Linked DNA regions of Homo sapiens. The protein of the gene in region 2 purifies or fractionates together with the protein of the main gene of each other region. This does not show direct contact. Each region holds a gene or a part of one and is shown on either strand. Other genes may lie near its edges.

Evidence for each region.
Region 1: the proteins of RAD52 (region 2) and ERCC3 purify together in Homo sapiens (affinity purification with western blotting; one study listed by BioGRID). This does not show direct contact.

What each region holds. Positions count from the first base shown.
Region 1 is NC_000002.12:127,277,112-127,280,658, forward strand, and holds part of ERCC3 (general transcription and DNA repair factor IIH helicase/translocase subunit XPB), read right to left. Parts: intron 3,521-3,547; coding exon 3,336-3,520; intron 2,265-3,335; coding exon 2,062-2,264; intron 1-2,061. UniProt on the Homo sapiens protein: ATP-dependent 3'-5' DNA helicase/translocase. Binds dsDNA rather than ssDNA, unzipping it in a translocase rather than classical helicase activity. Component of the general transcription and DNA repair factor IIH (TFIIH) core complex.
Region 2 is NC_000012.12:939,651-943,197, forward strand, and holds part of RAD52 (DNA repair protein RAD52 homolog), read right to left. Parts: intron 1-3,547. UniProt on the Homo sapiens protein: Involved in double-stranded break repair. Plays a central role in genetic recombination and DNA repair by promoting the annealing of complementary single-stranded DNA and by stimulation of the RAD51 recombinase.

The DNA.
Region 1 (3,547 bases), on a different chromosome or scaffold from region 2:
AGGCCCAGGGAAGTCATGGGGTAGTGTCCAAGGGAAACCCCATGGTAACAGCTGGTGGTGTCTCTAGTCCTAGACAGCAAGCAGGCCAGAACAGAGTAAGCGAATGGAGTGCTGGTGGGGATCCCACTGGGGAAACAGAAAAACAGAACTGAGAAATTACCTGACCCTACTGAGTTTATGGTTATGTGAAGACTTTGGAGGGGAATAATTATTCAATGCACAGAAAACCAAGCAAAAACAATGACAAGGCAATTATTAACTCCAAGGCAAAAAAACATTTACAAAAAAGAAAATGTAAGGCCGGGCATGGTGGCTCACACCTGTAATCCCAGCACTTTGGAAGGCCGAGGCAGGCAGATCACGAGGTCAAGAGATCGAGACCATCCTGGCCAATATGGTGAAACCCTATCTCTACCAAAAATACAAAAATTATCCAGGCTGTGGTGGCGGGTGCCTGTAGTCCCAGCTACTCAGGAGGCTGAGGCAGGAGAATCACTTGAACCCACAAGGCAGAGGTTGCAGTGAGCTGAGATAGCGCCACTGCACTCCAGCCTGGCAACAGAGCAAGACTCCGTCTCAAAAAAAAAAGGAAAATGTAATAGTACTCTACAGCTCTGCCTGAACATACTTACACAGTCAAAATAATGTAACTGAATATTAAAGTAACCCCCAACTTGTGCTATTCCCATATTGGGAGAATGGTAGGAGAGAAAACAGGAGTGGGGAGAGTGGTGTATGTAAGAAAGCTAAACCCTCAACTCCTACAGTAGGAAGTTAATAGGCAATTTCTATAACTGATCATCAAGAAATTACTACATAAGCTATTGCTTAGAAAGATGAAGGCTGGCCAGGTGTGGTGGCTCATGACTCTAATCCCAGCACTTTGGGAGGCCAAGGCAGGAGGAACTGCTTGAGCTCAGGAGTTTGAGACCAGCCTGGGCAACATAGCAAAACCCCATCTCTACAAAAAACAAAAATTAGCTGGGTGTGGTGGTGCGTGCCTGTAGACCCAGCTACTCGGGAGGCTGAGGTGGAAGGATTGATTGAGCCCAGGGGGTCAAGGCTGCCGTGAGCCGTGATTACACCACTGCACTACAGACTGGGTGACACAGTGACACCCTAACTCCAAAAAAAAAAAAAGAAAAAAGGAAGAAAGAAAGAAATATGAAGGTAAACAACAAAAAAGAGTCAAAAGCGGCTGTCTTCAAGGAATAGAATTGTGGGTGGGAAAATAGAAGCAGGGAATTGCTGTTTTTCACAATAATCTAAATGTTGACTTGGATTAAAAAGTCTTTCTAAATTAAATAAAGGTATAATTTTAGAAACTTAAGAAATTTAATCTTTCTATGAGTTTGTCTTCCCTTCTATAAAATGGGAACAACATTTTATATGGCTGAAGTGAGGATTAAGTAAAACCTATGTATAGTACCCATAGCACATAGCTTGACCTGTCTCCATAGAGGGCCTGGCCTTCTGCAACACTTACAGCACCTGAAGTCCTGTGTCACTGTAGGAGCAAGCGCAGACCTCTTCCTCCTTACTTGGCAGAGCTTTACAAAAGCCAGGTTTTAAGCACAAATATTTGGGTGGAGCCATGGGTTGATGAGGATACTGCGTGGGCATTTCTAAGCTCCTTCCAGATGCCAGTCCGTACTTGGGATGCCAGCCCAGCCCATCTTGCCTTCCCAGCCCCTAGGCCATCCAGTCTGGCCTCCTCTCCACCCACAGAGCTCACACAGCCCAAAGCTCCAAATGCCAACTCCCACCCACCTTTGGAGCCCAGATCTTCCATGGGGCCCCACCCAGCTCAGTCCAAGTCTCTGCTCCCTGTTCTTTGGGCTCAAGGTGACTAGCCCCCCTTTTCTCTATGCTCTAACCTCTGACTCCAACCACCTACTTCAGGTCTTCCCTGGTTTCTGAGACCAGGGCCACAGAACAAGATCTTTGGAGCCCAAGAAGTTCCTGAGAGAAAAACAAAAAAACAAAACAACAGCCACCTTCTGCACTCTCAATGGGGAAGAGAAACTGGCCTGGAGGAAGCTCCAAGTTTTCAATTCTTACTTGTTCAGTCGAATGGCATATTCCTTTAGGGCAAACACATTGTCAGCAAAGACAATAATCTTGTCATTCCTCCTTTCATGAAACTTGATCAGAAACTGGCAAGCTCTAAATTTGTTGGGGTTCATGGTGTACAGCAAGATTCGTTTCTTGGTTTTGATTGCCACATATTCCCGGTAAAATTCAGGAGACATAGGGCACCAGACCTGTAATACAGTAAGAACCAGGGGTCATTTTACAAGTTTAAACACCACACAATTTAAAACTTTTGAAGACCTTTCTCTAGCAGAATTAGCTTTAAAACAAAACCAGTCAGGTGCAGTGGCTCATGCCTGTAATGCCAGCAGTTTGGGAGGCTGAGGCAGGCAGATCACTTGAGGCCAGGAGTTCAAGACCAGCCTGGCCAACACAGTGAAACCCAGTCTCTACTAAAAATACAAAAATTAGCTGGGTGTGGTAGTGCATGTCTGTAATTCCAGCTACGCAGGAGGCTAAGGCAGGAGAATCACTTGCCCAGGAGGCGGAGGTTGCAGTGAGCCAAGATCACGCCACTGCACTCCAGCCTGGGTGACAGAGTGAGACCCTGTTTTAAAAAAAAAAAAATGCTATGTGAATTAGAAATCAGTACAACTGAAAATAAATGCATGCACAAAACTAAACCCAACCTAATACCTCCTATTGAACTGGACGTTTTCACATGTTAACCACTTAAAAGATTTTTAAATGCAATCACATCCAGGGAGTTATTTTCACACCAGCTGCAAGTGTGCGAAACCAGATTCTCAATTGGTAGTGTCAGCAATTCTTCCATTTAAGCCACACTTCCACACACGAGTCAGCACTGCTACTGAGTACCGCCACCTCTTCACACACTTCCCAGCAGGGCTGGGAGCATATCAGTTAGGCGCTTGGGGCTATCAGAGCAAAGCCCTTTGCTGCCAGGCTCCCAGGCAGCACTGTGGTATCAGGGGCCTTCATTCATCCCTGTGCCCTGAATGCTAATCCTCACCCACAGAAATCCATGACTGGTAAACCCCATGGCTAGGAAAAAGAATCATCACAAATTCAGGGGTATGTGAGATATGTGACAAGACAGAAGATATGCAGCAAGTGGGTCTAGTACCACCCAACCACAGGGTGACTGAGGATCCTGTATGAAGTGGTAGCAGGTGAGCCTAAGTCCTGACCTGTGTCTGCCCATGAGGAATCGATCTGATCACTCCCCTGCCCATAGGAGGAGGCCCTTTCCCAGACGCCCCCAGCCCAGGCCCAGCTACCTCAGCACACTGGACTTTGGCGATGTAGCCATTATTCTGCAGCTCCATCCAGTTGGCTTCGTAGAGCTTAGGCCCAATCAGAAAATTTAAATCCACAATTTTGTCATCTTCGCGGACGAGGGTCGCAGTCAAACCCAGCTTACAGTGGGCCTGCACGATGGTGAGCACCCTTCGGAACATCTTGGCTGAGGAAACAATGGGAGCATTCACAC
Region 2 (3,547 bases):
TACAAGCTTCTAATTACCCATAAGTAGAAAAACGTCAATTTCTTGTAGAGATGTTTCTCAATCTCTCATCTCAGCTCTTTAAGGACAGCAAAGAGGGATCCAGATAGGAAGAGAGATGCAAAGAAGAGAGAAGAGGGCTGGGCGCACCGGGCGCGGTGGCTCATGCCTGTAATCCCAGCACTCTGGGAAGCTGAGGCAGGCGGATCACGAGGTCAGGAGTTTGAGACCAGCCTGGCCAAGATGGTGAAACCCCGTCTCTACTGAAAATACAAAAATTAGGTGGGCGTGGTTGTGTGCGCCTGTAATCCCAGCTATTCGGGAGGCTGAGGCAGGAGAATCACTTGAACCTGGGAGGCAGAGGTTGCAGTGAGCAGAGATCACACCACTGCACTCCAGCCTGGGTGACAGAATGAGACTCTGTCTCAAAAAAAAAAAGAAGAGAGAAGAGGACAATGGAGAGCCTAAGATGGAACTAAAATATCACCCTGAAAAAGAAAACTCACGGTAAGTATGAAAACACCAACAAAGAATTCCGTTAAATCGGGAGGGAGGAAGGGAAGGTCGGGTAGAGACACTTTTAAACACATGCAGAACTTGATGAGGTAGTCTTGAAAACGCAAGCCTTCTGGGAAGAAGGAGAAAAAGAATGAAAGGGTACCCTCTGTTGGCCGGGCGCGGTGGCTCACGCCTGTAATCCTAGCACTTTGGGAGGCCAAGGCGGGCGGATCACGAGGTCAAGAGATGGAGAACAGCCTTGCCAACATGATGAAACCCAGTCTCTACTAAAAATACAAAAATTAGTTGGGTGTGGTGGCGCGTGCCTGTAGTCCCAGCTACTCAGGAAGCTGAGGCAGGAGAATTGCTTGAACCCGGGAGGCAGAGGTAGCAGTGAGCAGAGGTTGCAGTGAGCCAAGATTGCGCCACTGCACTCCAGCCTGGAGACAGAGCAAGACTCCGTCTAAAACAAAACAAAACAAAACAAAACCAAAGAGAAAGGGTACCCTCTGAAAACTGTGCTGTGAAAGACACAAAGAAAATGTAAGAGCCAAAGGACATAGAACCACCTCCCCGACAAAAAAGCCTTCTAGTAGAATTAGAAGCCATACTTGACTACACCTAGAAAAGAATAGGAACTACTCTTGAACTAGGAATCTCAAAAATCATCCTGAATGACTGTCACTCCTGCTCACGAAATGCAAACTTCGAGAAAAAAAAAAGATTGAAAAGAATGAAAGAACCTCAGGATCCTGTGGGCTAATATCAAAATGTCTAACTCACATACAATTGAAGTGAAATTGAACTCACATACAGAAGAAGTGAAAGAGAATGGAACAGAAGAAATATTTTTAAAACTAATAGCTCCAAATTTCCCAAATTGGCCGACAGACATAAATTTACAGATTTAAGAAGCTCTGCAAATCTCAAGAATAAATCTCCGGATAAATACAAATAAAATGACACCTAGATACACCACAGACAAACTGCTAAAAAACAAAAATAAAGAGAAAATCTTGAAAGCAGGTAGAGAATGATAACACATTACATACAGAGTAATGAATGATGCAAATGATGGCTCCATTTTACAATAAAGGTAAGAAACATATCTAGAAATCAATTTAACAAAATATGTATAAGACTTCTGAACTGAAAACCATAAAACAGAACTAAAAGAATTTTTTTTTTTTGAGACAGAGTTTCACTCTTGTTGCCCAGGCTGGAGTGCAATGGCACCATCTCGGCTCACTGCAACCTCTGCCTCCCAGGTTCAAGTGATTCTCCTGCCTCAGCCTCCAGAGTAGCTGGGATTACAGGCATGCGCCACCATGCCTGGCAAATTTTGTATTTTTCGTAGAGACAGGGTTTCTCCATGTTGGTCAGGCTGGTCTCAAACTCCTGACCTCAGGTGATCCACCCGGCTCAGCCTCCCAAATTGCTGGGATTACAGGTGTGAGCCGCCACACCTGGCCCAAAATTTTTATTTTTATTATTATTATTTTTTGAGACAGAGTTTTGCTCTTGTTGCCCAGGCTGGAGTGCAATGGCACTATCTCAGCTCACTGCAACCTCCACCTCCTGAGCAAGTTCAAGCAGTTCTCCTGCCTCAGCCTCCCAAGTAGCTGAGACTACAGGCACCTGCCACCACACCTGGCTAATTTTTGTATTTTTAGTAGAGACGGGGTTTCACCATGTTGGCCAGGCTGGTCTCGAACTCCTGACCTCAGCTGATCTGCCCGCTGCAGACTCCCAAAGTGCTGGGATTACAGGCATAAGCCACTGCACCCGGCCTAAAAAGAAATTTTAAAAGGCTTAAATAAGAAGGAAAATGCACCAAGTTCATATATTTGAAGACTCAATACTGTTTAGGTGTCATTTCTTTCCAAATTGATCCATAGATTCAATGCAATCCCAATCACAACTTTACCAGACTTTTCTGTAAAACTGGTAAAGATAATTCTGATATTTATATGGAAATGCAGAGGATTTAGAATATTCACATCAAGCTTGAAAACAACAAAATTGGAAGACCTACAACTACATGACTTCAAGACTTACTAAAAAGCTACAGTAATTAAAAGTGTGGTACTAACACAAGGATTGAACAATGGAACAGAAAAGGGAGTGCAGACATCAATTACCATTTGTACAGTCATCTTAATTTCCAAAACGCAATACAATAGCATTTTCAACAAATGGTGCTGGAATGACTGGATATCTATATGGAAAAGAAATTAATATTTAATTATATCTCACACCATTCACCTAAACTAGAAATGGGTGATAGGCTTAAACATAAAACTAAAACTATAAAATTTATAGGCCGGGCACGGTGGCTCACGCCTATAATCCCAGCATGTTGGGAGACCGAGGCGGGTGGATCACAAGGTCAAGAGTTCAAGACCAACCTGGCCAACCTGGTGAAACCCTGTCTCTAATAAAAATACAAAAATTAGTTGGGCATGGTGGCGCATGTCTGTAATCCCAGCTACTCGGGAGGCTGGGGCAGGAGAATCGCTTGAACCTGGGAGGCAGAGGTTGCAGTGAGCGGAGATCGCCATCACCGCACTCCAGCCTGGACGACAGAGCAAGACTCTGTCTCAAAAAAAAAAAAAACTTACAGAAGAAAACATGAAAGATTATCTTCACAGCCTGAAGGTAGCCAAGATTTCCTAGGACTCAGAAAGCAGTAACTATAAAAGAAAATATAAGAGAAAACTGATTACATCAAAATGTAAAACTTCTGTTCATCAGACAACTCTAAGAAAATGAATAGGCAACCAGACAGAGGACAGGTAACCAGGATATAAAGGTTATATAAATAACTGCTACAACTCAATAATAAAAAGACACACAACCCAATGTAAAATGGGCAAAAGATTTGAGCAGGCACTTCACAAAGGAAGATGCACATTGTCATGGGCACAGGAAAAAGTGCTAAACACCATTAGTGACTGAGGACTAAAATTAAGACCATGACACACCACACCCATCAGAATAACTCAAAAGACTGACAACACCAAATGCTGGCAAGGATGTAAAGCAACTGGAA